Regions from separate parts of the Homo sapiens genome. Here region 1 is linked to region 2. The links come from fine-mapping of genetic effects on gene expression. A gene starts in region 2. The other region holds a variant in brackets. All regions are shown on one strand. Distances are from middle to middle. Region 1 has its middle 18 kb from the start of LINC01271. Region 2 holds the start of LINC01270 (long intergenic non-protein coding RNA 1270).

The links. PIP is the estimated chance that this variant, and not a neighbour inherited with it, causes the effect.
Region 1: its variant is fine-mapped to the expression of LINC01270 in whole blood (TOPMed, PIP 0.96).

Annotation. Positions count from the first base shown.
Region 1 is chr20:50,336,664-50,342,034 of GRCh38, reverse strand. No RefSeq gene overlaps it. Among named protein-coding and RNA genes, the nearest start is that of LINC01271, 18 kb to the right of the region's middle. RefSeq lists an enhancer at 2,722-2,921. The variant T/C (reference allele first, on the strand shown) is at 2,977.
Region 2 is chr20:50,290,154-50,295,524 of GRCh38, reverse strand. It overlaps LINC01270 (long intergenic non-protein coding RNA 1270), which reads right to left and starts at 2,805. Exons shown (of 5, transcript NR_034124.1): 1 at 2,695-2,805. RefSeq lists enhancers at 902-1,402, 2,516-3,252.

The DNA.
Region 1 (5,371 bases), 47 kb before region 2:
GGGTGAACAGGAAAGTACCTACTATGTGCCACTAAGAAAGGGCCTCCCGCAACCCCACTCCCAGGCCTCCTGTGTCCAGTAGGAATGTGGGCCCAGTATGGCCACATCTTCCCATTTTTCAAGAGAAGCCAGAGAAAAGGACTTTATGTGAAATCTCCTGGCATGTCAGATGTTGGCAATTGATTCACATTAAAAAAAAATACTTTAAGGACCAAACTAAACATATCTCCAGAGTGGACCTGTCCCATGGGCAGCTGTCATGGAGGTCTGCTCTAGGAGGCTTGATGGGTACGAACACCTTTGAGGATAACGAAGCTGAAGCAGTTCTTCCTGGCGTCTCACTTGCGTGCCCTCTGTTGTAGCCATTGTGGGAGGGGTTCTCATACAGCTGGGGCAGCTCTGATGGGGGACAGAAGGGCAGAGGTAGCGCCCCCAGCTCTGAGCCGCACCCACAGGCAACACCCAGCCCACCCCAGACCAGCTCCTTGCCCAGCTCAGCCCAGAGTCCAGGGTGGATGGAGTGTGGGGAGGACTCATCATGGGGGCTGTGAGAAGCCTGTTTATGGCTCCAAAATTCCTATGCCCCAGGCCTAGGGGAAATTAGTGCTCGTATGAGGCTGTTCACCTCCAAACTCCTTGGCCTCTCCAAGAAATTAAAAACAGGGAAACCGAGGCAGGACTGAGCTTCATGGAGACCTGGGCCTGCAGGCCTGGGCAGGCTTGGAGGCAGCCAGGAGGCTGACTTCTCTGGAAAGTCCCTTGTATTCGAGAACTGGCGGGGTGCCGGGGAGCGAGGACACCAGGGGTCTCCTAGTCTCAGAGCCTTCTGCCGGATCCAGGAGCTCCTCAAGCGTCTGCCCTTTCTGGGACAGAACTTTCCAGCAACAGAAAGTTGAGGAAGCCCCTCTCTGGAAACCCTGAGCCTCCTTGATGGGGCTTGCATTCTGCTTTGGGGCAGAATGTGGGACTGTGGGACAGGAGGACGGGGCGTGAACCCCAGTCCTAAGCCCAGATGTCGGCTGGAGATCCTCAAAGCCAGGGCCTCTTCTCAAGAGTCTGATGGCCCCACCAGCCATTTCTCTCACCCAGACCCCAAGTCAGACTGGACACTGTCACCATTGTCCTGGAGGCCAAGAGACCCGCAGACCAGAATTCAAAGCCTTGCCCCGCTGCGGGCTGAGACAGTCGCTTGGGCTCTGTGGTCTCATTCCTGCATCTGTAAAATGCATCCTTCCATTGTAGGAATTCAACAAGCACATGACATGGGGCTGGTGCTGGGCAGAGGAGAGAAGAAGTGACAGTGAGCACGCACCCTGGGCTGGTGCTGAACCCGCCACACACGTCCTTCTTCCCTTCTCACCACAAAACCCTGCATCTGTTCATTCAATGCTGGATGAGTGCCCCCTATGTGCCAGGCTCTGAGATTTAATGGAGGACAGTGGAGAACTGGCCTCTGCCTGCTGGGAGCTTACAGTCTGGCCAATGGGGAGTTATGAACCCCCTAAATTATTGTGTCAAGTAGTGGTCAGTGTTATGGGAAAACATTCACGCAGGGTGAAGAGGTAAGGCCAGGGGAGCAATTTGGAAGGGCCGGGGGTCAGAGCAGGACCCCCGGGGTCATTTAAGCAGACACCCAGATCAGGAGAGGGAAGAAGCCCTGTGGCTATCTGGAGGAAGGATGCTGAAGGCAGCGGAAACAGTGTGTGCAAAAGCCCCGAGGTAGGCGTGTGCTTAGCATGTTGGAGGAACAAAGAGGAGCCCAGTGTGGCAGGGGTAGAGGGAACCAGAGAGAGTGAGTAAGAGGAGATGGGCCAGGCGCGGTGACTCACACCTGTAATCCCAAGCACTTTGGAAGGCCAAGGTGGGCAGATCACTTGAGCTCAGGAGTTCGAGACCAGCCTGGGCAACATGGCAAAACCCCATCTCTACTACAAAAAATACAAAAATTAGCTGGCCGTGGAGGCATGTGTCTGTAGTCCTACCTATCTGGGAGGCTGAGGTGAGAGGATGACTTGAGCCCAGGAGGTTGAGGCTGTAGTGAGATGTGTTGGCACCACTGCACTCCAGCCTGGGTGACAAAGTGAGACCCTGTCTTAAAAAAAAAAAAAAAAAAAGAGACAGAGAGAGAGAGATGAGGTTATAAGGGAAGCATGGGAAAGATCTTGTAGGGCCTGGTAGGCCACAGAGATCTTTGACTTTCTGCCAAGTGAGGTGGGAGCCGTGGGAGGGTTTTGAGCACAGGAAGGTCATGTCCTGACCTCCTATACTCATCCTCATCTTAAAGGTGAGGAAACTGAGTCTCAGAGAGGTGAAGTTACCCACCCAAGGTCACACAGCCAGCAAGTGGCAGAGCTGGAGTTTGCCCCCACATCCCTGTGGCTCCCAAAGCCAGCCTCTTCCCATCCCATCAGCTGCCTCTGTGTCTGGCGTGAGTCAGGAGGCTGGATTGCTGGGAGGGGGAGAGCTTTTTAGAGCTGCTTTTTGGAGCCTCCTGGCTCTGCCTGGCACATCCCCTCCTTCCCCACCCATGCCTTCTCCCTTGCCCTCAGCCACCCCCAGCTGCCTGCGGTGAGTGCCTAACATTTAAGGCTATCCCCTCCCAAGTGCAGATTGGATTTTTTTCTTTCCATAAGTCCCCATTATGCCCCAGTAGACTGGATTTTGGGCAATAGAAAAAACGAGCCTAAAGAACTCCAGCGCTAATTGGGGGTGACAGGCAGGGGCTCGGGGCCTCTGGAGCAGCCTGGCTCTGTCTCTAATTTGCAGAGTGGCCAGGGTAAGTCCCTGGCTTCCAAAGTCATGCTTGTTTGAAGGACAATCACTTTCTTTTTCTTGTAAAAGGAAGATAAATTGTCAGCCTGTCGGTTTCATTATGAGCTCGTCCGCTGTCTTTCCAGTAACTGAGGGCGAGAGGCTGAGCCGCTGCCCAGAGGCTGCCTGTGAGGCCTTGGGGGCTGTGGTTGATGCCACCTGGCC[T/C]CCTTCGCATCACCTCCCTCTCAACACCCCTCCCACCCCCTCCAATAATTGTGGTATTTGGTTTTCCCTCAACACCAAATGTGAAACTCTCCTGGAGGGAGTGCAAAAGGAAGTCTGTGAATCTCTGAACTGTGGTTGAATGAAGGTATTCTTAGGCGCCTGCTTGCAAGGATGGTGAACTTCTGGTGCTAAAAGCAGAATTGCTTTTCAGTAAATGTTATTACTCAAAAGGAAGTTGTTACCACCACAGCCACCTCGAGCCTCTTCCAACTGCCACTCTGTCTGCCAGGCCAAGTGGGGAAAGGGTCTCTCAGTGGCTCCCAATGACCCCATCCAGCCCCCAGGGGAAGGTCTTGCTATCTCAGCTGACCCTGGAGGCCTGAAGCTGAAGTGCAAACAACCACAGTCTGCCTAGGCAGAGTATCTCAAGGTAGGGGCTGTTTGCTGACTCAGCATTTAAAAGTCCCAAAGCTTGAGTGATCTTGGCTGAGCTGGGCTGGAGCTACAGGTGGGGTTGGGGGCACACAAGAAAGCTGCCCGTTGGCTGCAAGGTTGGCTGTTTTTTGAGAGCTGTTGTCCATCTTGGCAATGCACCTTGCCTAACCCCTATTTCCTCTTCTCTAAAATGGAAAGGTGATCATACCTCAATGGAAAGAGCTAGCATATTGATTACTCTAGTAGATACTTAATAAGTGGTGAGGTTATTATCAACAGTGAAAATGATTCTGGATTTAAATCAGACAGACCAGGGCTCAGATCTCAGCTCTGCCACCTACTAGTTGCACAACCTTGGACAAGTCCATTCCCCTCACCAAGTCTCGGTTTTCTCTGGATCACGCAGGAGTGATTATAGCACCTACTGCTCAAAGTTGTTGGGAGAATTCCGTGAGCTGCAGCACGTAAGTCACAAGGCACACAATAGGTATGCAGTAGGCATGGGTTCCACTCCTGCTCCATTTTGCCTTACAGAGGATCACCCCCCAGGCTGTGTCCCCACCTGAGCAGTCCCAACCACAGGCTCCAGGTGGAGAGACACCCATGAAAGTTTGCACCCACCGGGGTCCAGAGGGCAGACAAGAAGCGACCAGGCCAAACTCAGGGGAGTGGAATGGACCACTCAGCAGACACTTCCCTGCAAGAAAGAAGTCAAAACAAACCCCCTGGCTGGTGAGACATGATCCCAATCTAGAGCTCTCAGAGGATGCTCTCGGGTCCAATCCTCTGCCTGCCTCTACCTGTAGCCTTTTCTACAGCCCGGAAAAGTGGCAATTTCATTTACTGGGCAGCCACTGCAAGTGAGCATTGTGCTCTGCATGTCTCATGAATCACGTCATCGTGTCCCCCCAGCAACCCCACGAGACAGTTCCTCTCATTGCTCAGCACCTGCAGGTGTGGAAACTGAGGCCCAAGGAGGTGAAGGGACTGGTAGCTGAGATTTGAACCCAGCCCATCCCATTGTCAAGTCACACACATAATCACCGCACTACTTCCGTTATCTGAGAACAGTGTGTCTGTGTTACCAAAGATATAATTATATTTAGTAGTGTCTGGGTATAGAAAATTGTATAATATATTCTTTTTAAAATGTATTCTTTTGAGATTATTATAGATTTACATGCAGTTGTAAGAAATAAACAGAGAGAGTCCATATACCCTTTCCAGTTTCCCCCAATGTTAACAGTCACAATAAAGATATTGACAGTGATATAGTCAAGATACAGACATTTCTATCACCACGAGGATCCCTCATTGCCCTTGTATAACCAAACCCATCTCCCACCCCCAACCCTGCCCCCGAGCCATGGCAACCACTAATCTGTTCTCCATTTCTATAATTGTGTGGTTTCAAGAATGTTACATAAATGGAATCATATAGTTTATGTAACCTTTGAGGACTGGTTTTTTTCACTCAGCATAATTCTCTGAAGATTTATTCAAATTGTGTGTTATCAATATTTTATTCCTTTGTATTGCAAGTAGCAGTCCATAGTATGGATATAACACAGCTTTTTTTAGTTAAAAAAAACCATAGACAGGCTTCCGGGTGGTTTACCAGTTTTTGCCTATTATGAAGAGAGCTGCTATGAAGATTTGAGCATAAGTTTTTGCACAAACATAAGTTTTCATTTTTATGTCCAGGATTGCAACTGCCAAGTCATAAGGCAGTTTTTAAAAAACTGTTTTCCAGAATACGGTACCGTTTTACATTCCCATCAGGAATGTATGAGTGTTCTAGTGTCTCCATTCCTCACCAGTGATTGAATGCGAAAGTTCCCATCGTTTTTTATTTTGGTCATTCTGATAGGTGTGTAGCAATATCCGATTGTGGCCTTAATTTGCATTTCCCTAATGGCTAATGATGTTGAACATTTTTTCATGTGTTTATTTCCATCTG
Region 2 (5,371 bases):
CCTCTTCTGTTTGCTTATTGCACATCTCAGCTCATTCAAGCACAATTGAGCACCTACTATGTACCAGGCTGTGTGCTAAACACATTACATATATTAACTCATTTGTCCTTTCAGCAATCCTATGACGTGGCATCTTACAGGTAGGATGCAAAGAGGTAAAGTGTCTCACCCAAAACCACACAGCAAATAAGCAGTGGGCCAGGAGTTAACCCAAGGCCCCTGGCTCCAATGTCTGTGTTCTTAACCACTCACTGCTTTACACTACCTCTTCCATCAGCCCTACAAGGGCAGGGATTTTTGTCACTGCTGTGTCCCCAGCACCCAGCCCAGGACCTGGCATATAGGAAGCGCTAAAAAAAATCCAAGGAATAAATGAGTGGACGAATGAGCGAATGATCTCACTGAGTTCTGAGAATATCTTTCCAGGTGGTATTTATGGATGAGGACACAGAGGCTCAGAGAGGTAAAGTGACTTGCCCCAAGTCACACAGGGAGTGTGTCACAGCACTGAGATTGGAACTAGGATGGGAGGTCTGCCCCTCCGCCCTCCTGCCCCCCATGGCCCTAATCTCTCCAGACAGTCCCTGCCCCTGGACTGTGGGCCACATGAGGGCAGACGTGTGCCTGTCCCTGGGCAGTCCTGGGATCCAGCCTGGGGTCTGCACGCGGTGGAAGGCAATTCCAGCTCCTCCCCTTGGCCCCAAGGCCTTCTGAAAGGGAGACCCTGACAATAACACTTCCTCACCCGGTCACTTTCCTGACTCCCAAGCAGTGATGAATTTCCCAGACAACGCCTGCACCTCACCGCCACCTCTGGGCCTGTCTGTGTGCTGCTTCCCCTACTGGGAACGCTCTCCCAGCCCTTCTGCCCCAGCCACAGCTTGGAGGTCACCTCCTCCGCCAGGAAGCCATCCAGGCAGCCCCACAGCCCACAGCTCTCGGGGCTGCAGGGATGAATGTGGGACCCTCTCCTCCACGGCCTGTGTTCTGGCTTCTGGCTTCTCCGGGGGAGTTGAACTCCCTCGATTCTCATGCCTGTCCAGCCACTGACCTTCTAGGGGAAGCTGGCTCGGGCCTCACTGAGCTCATCTGTGAGATGGGTAGAAGTTCTGAATGCGATCTCAGGCAGTCTTGCCATCTCTCACATAGGCTCCTGCCCAAGTCCCAGCCGCGGCTGCTCACTCAGCCCACCAAGCCCTGCATGGTCCAACCCCTGCTGGCCCTCCAGCACCATGTCCTGCTGCTGTCCCCTCCTCACACCCCTTCAGCCTCCTTGCCTTTCCTGGAACTTCCCAAACCCATTCCCACCCTCAGGGCCTTTGCACGTGCTGTGGTGAGTTTCCCTCTGCTGGAAATCTCTTCCCCAGGTCTGGTCCTTCTTCTCCTTCAGGCATCTGCTCCACATCACCGCCTCAGAAAAGCCCTCTCTGACCCACTCAGCTCCCAAACACCCCTGCTGATTCCCATCACGGCCCTTCTCTCTGGTGAAATCCTCTCGCCTCTTCAAGCATTTGCTCACCGATGTTTATCTCCTCCATCCTCTCCTCCACCATAGTGAGGGCAGAGACCTTGTTCACTGCTGGGTCCCCTGGAGCCTGGCATACAGTAGGTGCTCAAGCAGTGGTGGTGGAATGAAGGGAAGAACATCAAAGTGCTGCCCCACCCCTGCCCACCACCGGCCCCCAGCCCAAAATCAGGGAGTGGGAACCAGGAGGCCCCACTCCCGCCAGCAGCAGGCGCCCCCTCTGAGCCCGAGCCTGTCTGGTTCCCAGGCCCATAAAAACCACCGCCCTCACCTTGCCCTGGGGCGGCAAAGGGTGAAGGAGGAAGCTGTGGGGTTCAGAGATTGAACTGTCATGGATTCAGAGGCCTGGGCCAATGAAAGTCAGTGTTCACAGAGTGCCTTCTGCGTGTCCAGGTGCAGTTGAGACACCCCACACTCACAGCCCTCACTGCAGTTCTGCAAGATCAGGACCACCACGATCACCCTTCACAGGTGAGGAAACTGACGCACGGTAGGGTGCAGCCACGTGCTCCAGGCTGTGCAGCCTGAGAAAGGTGAAGTCAGCATTGGAACCCAGCTCCGCCCGACACCGCAGCCAGCATTGCTCTCATCCATGGCAGTGCACGGAGACCATGTCGGTGCCAGCTATGTGCCAGGTGCTGGTTCAGAGCACAGGTCCTGGAGCCAGACTGCTCAGTGCGTTAGGCAGGTGACTCAGCCCCTCTGTGCCTCAGTTTCTCCAGCTGTGAAACAGTCCACATGGCACCTCCCTTGTCGGCTGCTGAGGAGACGAAAGGAAATTATTTCCAGTCAAACAGAGTGCTCTTGTTGCATGCCCTTGGGAGAATTCATTCCCGCTCTGAGCCTCAGTTTCCCCATCTATCATATGGGGATTAAACTACGCCACTGTGTTGCATCGCTGCGAGACTAACGTGACGTATTTGCACAGTGCCTCCCGCACAGTGGACGTTTACTCAGAGCTCACTGTTCATTCACTCCAGTCCTGCAGGCCTCACTGTCCCCATCTGTAATCCCAGAAGGCAGCCCTGATCACCCAAGACGGCTGCTAAGTCCCTAGTGCAAAGGTCGAGGGGTCCCAGGGCAGCCCTGACAACTGGGGATATCCTGGGGGTGGGGAGGACAGCTGAGTGGCCGGGATCAGGAAGCTGCAGGGGGCCCAGGTGACTCACCCGCTGGCGGGGCTTGGGGGCTGGGCTGCGGCCCCCACGCACCCCTCTGGGCCCTGCCTTGTGCCCAAAAGTGCTGTGTCATGCTCCGTCATGTGGCTCCGGGTCATTAATACCCGAGTTCTGGGAAGCTTGGGCCGAGTTCCCGGAAGGGGTCAGCCAGTTCAGTAAACAGATTGGCTGGTTCGTCGTCACAGCTGAGCCGGGCGGGCCTGCAGCTCAAGAGGCAGGAGATGGAGGCTGGTGGCCAAGGGGACACAGGAACTGCCCCCGGCCCCATTCGGGGCTGGCACCTCCCAGGGCAGCCTGGCCCAGGCTCTGCAGATGAAAGGAGAAACCAAGGCCCAGAGAGGGCAAGGCAGTTGCCAGAGATCACACAGCAGGTCCGGGGCGCGGACCTAGAATTCTGGTCTTATCATCCAGTGCTCTCAGCATCACTCTGACTGATGGGCAGGGGGGGACAAATCACCTCAAATTGTAACCTAAGCCCCCCAAGCCCCCAAATCCTAACCTGGACCCTAAGGCCAGTGTGTTGGATGAAGGGAGAAATAAATGGAAGGCAACTTGGGAAGGAAGCAACTTTGAGGGGTTACTGGGCTGTCCCCTGTGGTCGATCCTATAATCATAGTAACTGCTTCTAGTGTTTCTTGAGCATCTATTATGTACAGGGCATTACCATAAGTGCCTTCCATAAATCCACCCATTTAATATTCAGCCACCTTTATACGAATAAACACAGGCATCACGTTTAAAGCATCCACTGAGTGCCAGGCACTGAGCTGGGTGATTGACATACACCACCCGGGATCCTCTGCGGACCTTGCCAGGGAGGCATCGCCGTCACCCCTGTTCATCAGATGAGGAAACAGATGCCCAGGAGGGCGAGCAGCTGAGGTGTATGGTGGGAGAACAGCAGGCTCCAGAGTCGACTAGACCCAGGGATTCAAATCTTTACTTTTACCCTTCCTGCTGTATGGCCTCAGGCAAGTGACTCCACCTCTCAGAGCCTCAGTTTACCCATCTGGTAAATGGGGATGATTATGGTACTGGAAACACTGGAGCCAGACTTGGTGGGAGCTCGTGAGTGTCATGATAGGGCAGTGGCTGGAGTGCAGACTTTTGGGTTGAATCTTGCTGTGCCCCTTCTTGGCTGTGTAACCTCGGGCATGCCGCTTAGCCTCTCTGGGACTCAGTGTCCTCTGTAAAATGGACATAGCACCTCCCTCATGCGGCAGGTGGGAAGAATGAATGAGCAGAAATCCCCGCAGCCTTCTGTGCGAGGCCAGGTATTCTGCAGCCACTGAACGCAGGTGACTTGTTCTTATATTTCACCTATGATGGCTCCACTGGGACTGGGGTGAGGGGAAGGACACTAGACCATGGGCAGAAGGACAAGGCACCCACATTCTTTGCTGCCCTTTTGCACCCACAAACAATCTGGAAAGGGAAGCTCAGCCTTGCCTGCCTCCTTGAGGGTCGGGGCTGAGGCTTGGCGTGAATGGTTGCCATGGCATCCTCCCCACCTCCCCACCAGCCACTCTGCCTTGCTATGGACTCCACGTTCCTCCCCTACTTAAAACCCTCTAGGGCTCCCCATTCCTCTTCTCGTGTACTACTCCCCAGTTTGGCTGAGCCCCAGACAGGCCTTATCATGGCTCTTTGGTTCTTGGCACCCCAGCCCCAGCCCCCTTGGTACAAACTCTCACACTCATCATTCCCACCTCACCCTTGTGCACACACAGGGCCCTTCACCCGGCATGCCCTCACTTTCCCTAACCCACCTGCCTGGTCTGGATTTCACCCACCCTTCAACGCACGTATTCAAAACCTCCTCCTCCAGGGAGACTGCCCTGATCCTCCCCTTTGAAAGCGAACTCTTTCTAGACTCTCTCTATATATATACCTCACTTACGTCTTTCTATCATTATATATCAACTATTTTTGTCCACCACCTCAAATTTTGGCAGCTGTGAGGTAGAAAATTTGCACAAGGGAGATTTTGGGGAAAAAATATTGCCTCTAAAATACTTAAAGAAATCTGCTGGCCAGGTGTGGTGGCTCACTACTGTAATCCCAGCACTTTGGGAGGCCGAGGCAGGTGGATCACTTGCAGTCAGGAGTTGGAGACCAGCCTGGCCAACATGGTGAAACCCTGTCTCTATCAAAAAATACAAAACTTAGCCAGGTGTGGTGGTGCATGCCTGTAGTCCCAGCTACTCAGGAGGCCGATGTGGGAGAATCACTTGAACCCGGGATGTGGAGGTTGCAGTGAGCTGAGATTGTACCACTGCACTCCAGCCTGCTAGGCGCGACCCTGTCTCAAAAAAAAGAAAAAGAAAAACCTGCTAAGTTGAAATTTTAAAATCTTTAATTAACCCACTCACACTTTATAATTCTATATTAAATTTCTAATTTAATATTTACAAAAATATTACAAAAATTTTCGAGGCGTTTGTAAACAATCTGCGAGTGAGAATGTTTCTTGTTGGGCAAGCGTTCCCTGGTGTACGCAGGGTTGCCAAGAACCCGAAGTAAGTGGTAAAATAAACGCGCTGCTTGTTGCCACACAATTTCAGAAGTGAAGTTACTAATATTATTGAAGTGTTTGGGTGATTTTTCCAACCCTCTTTTGGGTCCAGTCTGACCTTCCGTGTCCGTGTATTCCCCATCATCCTCATCA